Linked DNA regions of Homo sapiens. The protein of the gene in region 1 purifies or fractionates together with the protein of each later gene. This does not show direct contact. Each region holds a gene or a part of one and is shown on either strand. Other genes may lie near its edges.

Region 1 (4,288 bases):
GCTAGATCCAGGAGAGAAAAGAGGGAGGACTGGCAGCTGAAGACTCCCTGGGACCCAAGCCTCGGTGTGGGGAAGAGGAGAAAACACAGCTCAGTACCCTCAGCCTGGGGCCCAAGGTCGGGTAAGAAGGCACAAAGGAACTGCAGTGAGGTCCGACTCCACTCAAGATCCTTCAGGGAGTCCTCAAGGGCTGGGGCGTGAGGAGGTAGCTAAATTCCACTGCCCACCTTTCCAACAAGGCCTCCTCAATCTCAATTCCCTTTTCAGCAGCTCCAGGCAAGTCCGGGCAAACTCTAGCCCAGGGCTCTTAGCGAGGCTGGACAGCTCCCGGCCTGCACGCCGGATTTCTGGAGAGCCCGAGCCCCTTCCCTGAGCCCATCCTTCTCCTCTCCCGGGGCGTGATCCCACCACGACCACAGCCGATGAGCCGTTCAAGCTGGGAGAAGGAGCGAGAAGGCTGCAGCGGCGCAGGTCAGATACCCCTGGGCCCAACGTCCACCCCCAACTAGCGCCCTTGCCAGCAGCGTTTTCCCCGGAGCCACAGTCTCCACCTCGAGATCTTCTCCTTCTGGAACCCCGGAGCGCGGCCGGGTACCAGGGGCTCGCGTAGGACTGTAGAACCGCTGCCGCCCGCCGTCCCAGCCCCAGCTGCCCGCGCGGTACTCACCTGGGCCTCAGTGCCCGGGAGAAGGTGTGCCCGCGCGAGGCGTGAAGCCAGAGTCCGTCCGACTCCGCCCGCACCGGACGCGCTCTCAGGGCAGAGGAGGTCGGCGGAGTTGTGACGCTGGGACTAGAGGAAGGAGAAGGAAAGCCGAGACGGGCCGGGCAGACGCGCCGAGGAGCGCCCAGTGCACGCTGGCAGCCGCGGGAGGCGAGGCGGGCGCGGTGAGCAGTCGCGCCGGAACCGAGCCGCGAATCCGCGCCGCCTCGCGCTCGCAGCCGCCAGGACCCGCGGGAATCCTGGTCCGCCGGCAGCGGTACTGAGGAGGGAGGGGCGCGGGGCTGAGCCGCTTCTCGGAGCCCGAGCGCCTCCCGGAGCCGGCAATCCCTGCTGCCCGGGCGGGATGCGGGCGGGAATTCAGCTCGCGTGGAATGTGGGACCGGCCGGGCTCGGAGTCTCCAGCGCTGGGGGAAAGCGGGGCCCACACAGCCAGGACGAGAGGGGGTGCGGTCCCAGGGCCACCCCCGCGCCACTCCCCACGTGGCGGCCGCGCCCCCGGGGCGTGAGTGTGTACGCGGACGGTAGGGGGGCCGTGAATGAAGCCCCAGCGGCCAATCAGCACGGCCGGCGCGCGGGACCCCGGGAGCGACGCCCAATGGAGAGCTCTGGGCGGCCGGGCAGGGTGGCGGGCGGGCGCGCGGGGCGGGGGCCGGGCAGGGGAGGCGGGAGGCAGCTCCGCGGGCAGCCAATGGGCGGCGGGCGGGGTGGGGCTCCGGAGCGCCGAGCGGGTCGGGGCTTTAAGCCGGCGGAGCGAGGCGGCGGGGCCCGCAGACGGAGCGGAGCGGCGGCGGCGGCGCGGCGCAGGGCGCGGGGCGGCATGGCCACCACCGCGCAGTACCTGCCGCGGGGCCCCGGTGGCGGAGCCGGGGGCACCGGGCCGCTTATGCACCCGGACGCCGCGGCGGCGGCGGCGGCGGCGGCGGCCGCGGAGCGATTGCATGCAGGGGCCGCGTACCGCGAAGTGCAGAAGCTGATGCACCACGAGTGGCTGGGCGCGGGCGCGGGCCACCCCGTGGGCCTAGCGCACCCCCAGTGGCTACCCACGGGAGGAGGCGGCGGCGGCGATTGGGCCGGCGGCCCGCACCTAGAACACGGCAAGGCAGGCGGCGGCGGCACCGGCCGAGCCGACGACGGCGGCGGCGGCGGAGGTTTCCACGCGCGCCTGGTGCACCAGGGGGCGGCCCACGCGGGCGCGGCATGGGCGCAGGGCAGCACAGCGCACCACTTGGGCCCGGCCATGTCGCCCTCGCCCGGGGCCAGCGGGGGCCACCAGCCCCAGCCGCTCGGGCTGTACGCGCAGGCGGCCTACCCGGGGGGCGGCGGCGGCGGCCTGGCCGGGATGCTGGCGGCGGGCGGTGGCGGCGCGGGGCCGGGCCTGCACCACGCGCTGCACGAGGATGGCCACGAGGCGCAGCTGGAGCCGTCGCCGCCGCCGCATCTGGGCGCCCACGGACACGCACACGGACATGCACACGCGGGCGGCCTGCACGCGGCGGCGGCGCACCTGCACCCGGGCGCGGGCGGCGGCGGCTCATCGGTGGGCGAGCACTCGGACGAGGATGCGCCCAGCTCGGACGACCTGGAGCAGTTCGCCAAGCAGTTCAAGCAGCGGCGCATCAAGCTGGGCTTTACGCAGGCCGACGTGGGGCTGGCGCTGGGCACGCTCTACGGTAACGTGTTCTCGCAGACCACCATCTGCCGCTTCGAGGCCCTGCAGCTGAGCTTCAAGAACATGTGCAAGCTCAAGCCGCTGCTCAACAAGTGGCTGGAGGAGACCGACTCGTCCAGCGGCAGCCCCACCAACCTGGACAAGATCGCGGCGCAGGGCCGCAAGCGCAAGAAGCGCACGTCCATCGAGGTGGGGGTCAAAGGCGCGCTCGAGAGCCACTTTCTCAAGTGCCCCAAGCCCTCGGCGCACGAGATCACCGGCTTGGCAGACAGCCTGCAGCTGGAGAAGGAGGTGGTGCGCGTCTGGTTCTGCAACCGGCGGCAGAAGGAGAAGCGCATGACCCCTGCGGCCGGCGCGGGCCACCCGCCCATGGACGATGTATACGCGCCTGGGGAGCTAGGGCCTGGCGGGGGCGGCGCATCGCCACCCTCCGCGCCCCCACCGCCCCCGCCGGCGGCGCTGCACCACCACCACCACCACACACTGCCCGGCTCAGTGCAGTGACCCCGCGGGCCGGGCCCCCGCCGGCGCGCTGCAGGGCGCGGGCGCGCAGCCCGCCCGCGCGGCCTGGACTCTTTTTGTTCGGTTGCTTTGGATTTTACAAAAAAAAAAAAAAGCCCAGAAACTTTCGAACAAAACCAAACACCCGGACGACCCTCTCCGGTGAGCGGCGAAGACAGCCCGGTAGGCTGCGTCGCCCGAGCCCCGGGAGAGAGGAGCGAAGATCCGGAACTCGCCAACTCACCCCGGGCATCCTGCCCGCCGCCTGCTCTCTGCCCCCATCCCCTCGACGACCCCCGCCCCTGCCCCCCCGGGCTGTTCGGGGCCGGATCCCGGCAGCGGCCTCCCCAAAGCGACAGGTAACGCAGTGCGGGGTTAGGGATTCCCCGGGAGAGAGGACGAAGCGAGGAGAGTTCTCCATCCCCTCTCCCCGCGTGGACTCCTGAGCCTGCGGGTCCAGGGTGGGGGGCTGTCACTTTATTCGCTACACGCCTCTTCTCTCCTATAAGGATGCGCCCCACCCCGCTTTCCCCTTTCTCCGGGCTTGGTTTTTTACGGTTTTTATTTATTCGTGGAGCCTCTCGGCTCCTGGGGTCCTTCTAACTCCGCCCGCGCCCTTAATTTAAATCGCAGTATACTGTATTTATCGGGGCCCCGGAGGGGAGGTCGCGAGAGCCGCGTCTGTGTATAAAAGCAGGAAATAGCCAAAGCTTTAATCTAGCCTAATTTATTTTTCCCCTTATATTTCCCTACCCTACCCTCCCCCCAAAAAAAAGCAAAAAAAAAAAAAAAAAACTAACAAAAAAAATTCGAGTGTTCATTTTTCGTTTCGTTTCATCCGAGCCCCGGCTTGGTTCCCGGCCACGCCGGAGGGGTCTGCGCTCCCACACACCCAGACGGGAAGGGGCTTCTGCCCTGCTGCAGACCGACCGCCGCATAGCGCGGCCCCTGCTCCCCGCGGGGCCCTGCCCTCCTGGCCACACCAAACGAAACTTGGAAAAGTTAGAGAGATTGTTTTTTAACCAGCTGTAGAAATAAGCCGTTCCCTGAGAACCCTCCGCCTGATTCCCTGCAGCTTCCCTCTGCTCCCTTTCCAGCCCGCCGGGATGCGGGATGCCAGGGGAGGCCGGGAGAGAAATTCCCCAAGTTTGGGGTGAGGTGGGAACCATGTAAATATGTGAGATATGTACACACTGGCGGGGAGAAGAAACATTTTGTGCTTGGTTTTTATTTTTGGTTTTCCGGGTTACCCTTCCTTCCTACCCTAAAGGATTTTGTACACTGACTAATCCGAAAAAGATATTTTAATATGATTTCCGAATTTCTGACCCATCTCTATTTATTTTCTGGATGTGTTTGGAGCTTCCCCCTTCTCCGTTTCTTCTTCTGTTTGTTAA
Region 2 (3,799 bases), on another chromosome or scaffold:
CTGCCCTGGTGTGACTCAGGGGAGAGGCCTTGCAGTGGAAGGCCCCAGTGCAGAGCCAAGCGCCAGGGGCTGGGGAAGCAGGAACCAGAGGAACAGGTCCCTGCGGTGGGGAGGTTTGGGCCATCCTCGCAGCCCAGGCATGTGGGAGCCAAAGAGGCCCTGGTCTGCCAACGTGGCGCCTGGAGCTTGGCTGGTGTCCTTGGCAGGGCCAGGAGAAGTGGCTCCAGCTGTGCCAAAATGCTTGAGTTGTTATGAACCTGTGAACGGTGCTGGGTGGGGGCTGGACCAGCTCTGCCTGCCTCACCCCCAGGTCACCCCAGGCCCAACCCAGAGCTCCCACGGCCACATGCTGTCCAAGGCTGGAGGGAGGCTCCCTGGCTGCACCTGGCAGCACCACCCTGGAGGGCAGCATGCCCCAGGCCCCCGACAGAGCACCATGTGGATGACAGGGTGGGGAGCGAGCACAGCCAGGACCTGCCGCCCACATGGTCCCCCAACCAAGACAATGCTGTGAGCTCCAAGGTGGGGATCCTGCCTCCCAGGCGTCTTCACGACGCCTGCATGGCCCCAAGCTGTGGCACGCCTGCCATGACCCCCAAAGTCTGGGTGGTGTGGGGAGGACAGAGCCCAGAAAGGGACCCTGATTCTTAGGCCCCACAGGAAGAAGCAGGGCCTCACCAGGTGCCGAGGTTTGAGGCCCATTTCCAGCCTCTGTGGGCAGGACACGTGGCTGGGCGGCTCTGCCGCCCGCTCTGGCCCCTTGGGGTGTTACCTGGCCAGGCTGTACCCGTGCTGCAGGGAGGAGAACAGCAGAAGGGGCTGGCACAGGGCAAAGCGCTCGGGGACCCAGGACCAGATGTCTCTCATCTCCCTCACGCTGACGATCTCCGAGCGGAAGTTCTCTGCATGGACGGCCAAGTGTACAAACTGCCTGAGGGGAGCGAGCAGGGGTCAGAGCCCGAAGGCACGTCTGGGGCCAGGCCATGCCCCCCGAGGTATGCCCCAGAGCCTCTTTGGAAGTAAACCCAGAGGGAACTTCTCGCCTGCTTGCCCCGGCCCCGGTTTAGGGCCGGGTTCTAGGTGCCCAACGGGGAGAAAGTTCCCAGGAGCCCCACCTCCCACCCATTACAGAAGGGAAAGTGCCCAGCTTGGATGGGGACAATGCAACTTTTCTCTAAGAAATCAGGACAGAGAGCAACTGCTCTGGCAAGACAAGGCTTCAGGGTGAGCCAAACACCAGCAGATAGCATGACAGAGGCAGACAGGCAGGGAGGCAGGCAGACAGACAGACAGAAGGCGCCTGAGCATCAGTCCGGCTCAGAGGCAGCGCTGCTGAAGCTGGCCCACGAGAGCAGCCCTGAGACCCAGAGCAAGCAGCTGGCCTAGAGTCAGCCTGGTGGAAAGACAGAGGCCAGGTGTGCAGATACAGTTTCAGACCTACCTTTTAGAAAGTGACACACTGAAAAACAGGAGAAAGCAACGGACATGGAGAAGAAAAATAAAACAGACAAAGAGAGGTTAGTGTGAGTACCGATCCCCCGACAGGCCTTTGCTGGCCCAGAAGAAAGAGGGCTGCACGCCAACAGGCCGCAGCGTGGCACCATCACAGCGCTGGCTGCCAAATCCACATAGGACAGACACCATGAACTCCTGACCCTGCTCCCCTGGGGCTGTGCTCCAGGCGGGGAGGCCACGCCCAGCAGCCACAGCAGAGACCAGCCACGGAGCCCAGAGCCGGAGGGGTGGAGCAGAGGCTGCCCTGAAATGACCCTGGGAGTGGGCCTGGCCTCCCACGATGCCTTGCGACCCCATGGCCAGCATCAGCTTTCATCTCAGCCGTGGGCCTGGCCCCAGAGGATAGGACCCGATGTCCCTCGTCTGTGGCTGTAACTGGGAAGGCCCTTCCTGTTTCAGTGTCTTTTCAGCCATGCACAGATGGCTGGGTGGACCATGGGCAGAGGCCGCCTGGAGGCCGGCAGGATGAGCTCACGCCAGACACGTCCTGCCCCAGCCCCCGACCCTGGGTGTACCCCTCACAGGCTGCCGGCGACCTACCTCTTCTGCTTCACGGTGATGCCCTTCTGCTTCAGGGCTTTCTCATTGGCCATCTGCAGGAGCTGGATCTCCTTGCGGGAGAAGAGGCGGATGGCGAACGCTTTCTCCAGCAGCTTCTCAGGGGACACCGTCTTCGCGATGTCTCTGACGAACGTGCGGATGTCCTGCTTCACGCTGTCCGACTCCAGCGGCTGCCCGGCCCTCACCTTGTGGAAGAACTTGAGGATGGCCAGCGCCACGCGGTACAGCACCTTGTAGCCCTCCACCAGGAAGACGTCAAAGACCCGGGCGAAGTAGCAGAGGGGCAGCTCCCCAAACAGCCAGCGCTGCCAGTCCGCATAGACCTGCAGGACATCCTCCGACACGGCCACCATCAGCTTGTGGGCCGCCTGGCAGTACTTGTTCACCAGGTCCCCAAACGTCATGCAGGACGACTCAAAGGCCAGGAAGCTCTGGTCGATCAGCCTCCTGCCGGGGTCATTGCAGGCCAGGATGCGGCAGGCCTTCTCGAAGCACTCGGCCTCGTCGATGCTGTAGTGCAGCAGCAGGGCCACCACGGCCGGCAGGGCGGGGCAGAAGGAGATGTCGGGGAACTGGTTGGCCAGGCACAGGAGGATCTTGCGCACGGCCCCCTCGCCGCGTGCATTCAGGCAGTAGCTGGGCACCTGCGTGTTGTCCACGAACTCGGGCAGCGGCAGGCAGCTGCTGCTGTGCTTGCCCACGATCTTGCCCACGATGTCGCTGTACACGCTGGCGTCAGGCGTGACCGTGCGGCAGGGAATGTCCCGGATCAGGCGCTGGTACACCTTTCCCCGCAGGGCGTGGCTTTGGGCCCAGTAGCCCTGGCGCGCCAGCTGCTTCAGTTCCTGCAGTTCAGTGCAGCTCAGCTCCTTGGGCCCCAGGTCCTGGATGGCAGCGTCCATCTTGTCTTTGTCCACGAAGCAGTTGTATCCTGGAGAGTCCATAGCGCCGCTGTGCTCGGGAGGAGGCCCTGGACTGCCGGAAGGGGAGGACAGAGTGGCTAAATCCTCCAGCCCCCTTTCTGAGGGTTTCCTGCAAACCTGTCTGCCATCTCACACCCTGCAGGATTAAAAAAACACTTTTAGCATCTGTGTTTCAAGGTTCACATTTTAAAGAACGTATTTTTTCAAATGTGGTGTAGTTTTCTTTTCTTTTGAGACAGGGTCTCGCTCTGTTGCCCAGGTTGGAGTGCGGTGCAGTGGCGTGACCCTGCTCTCTGCAGCCTTGAATGGCTTGAACCATCTTCCTGCCTCAGCCTCCTGAGTAGCTGGGACGACAGGTGTCCACCACCATGCCCAGTTAATTTTTTTTTTTGAGATGGAGTCTCACCCTGTCGCCCAGGCTGGAGTACAGTGTCACGATCTCCACTCACGGCAACCTCCTCGCCCCTGGTTCAAGCGATTCTCCAGACTCAGCCTTCTGAGTAGCTGGGACTAAAGGCATGCACCACCATGCCTGGCTAATTTTTTGTATTTTTACTAGAGACAGGGTTTCACCATGTTGGTCAGGCTGGTCTCAAACTCCTGACCTTGTGATGTGCCTGCCTTGGCCTCCCAAAGTGTGGGATTACAGACGAGAGCCACCGCCCTGGCCTAATTTTTTATTTTTTTGTAGAGACAGGGTCTCGCTATGCTCTCCAGGCTGGTCTTGAACTCCTGGGCTCAAGCAATCCTCCTGTCTTGGCCTCCCAAAATGTTGGGATTACAGGCATGAGCCACTGTGC

The links.
Region 2: the proteins of POU3F1 (region 1) and TBC1D24 purify together in Homo sapiens (affinity purification with mass spectrometry; one large-scale study listed by BioGRID and IntAct). This does not show direct contact.

What each region holds. Positions count from the first base shown.
Region 1 is NC_000001.11:38,043,994-38,048,281, reverse strand, and holds the start of POU3F1 (POU domain, class 3, transcription factor 1), read left to right. Parts: upstream 1-1,488; 5' UTR 1,489-1,538; coding exon 1,539-2,894; 3' UTR 2,895-4,288. UniProt on the Homo sapiens protein: Transcription factor that binds to the octamer motif (5'-ATTTGCAT-3'). Acts as a transcriptional activator when binding cooperatively with SOX4, SOX11, or SOX12 to gene promoters. Acts as a transcriptional repressor of myelin-specific genes.
Region 2 is NC_000016.10:2,495,370-2,499,168, reverse strand, and holds part of TBC1D24 (TBC1 domain family member 24), read right to left. Parts: intron 3,136-3,799; 5' UTR 3,021-3,135; coding exon 2,056-3,020; intron 1,460-2,055; coding exon 1,442-1,459; intron 932-1,441; coding exon 773-931; intron 1-772. UniProt on the Homo sapiens protein: May act as a GTPase-activating protein for Rab family protein(s). Involved in neuronal projections development, probably through a negative modulation of ARF6 function. Involved in the regulation of synaptic vesicle trafficking.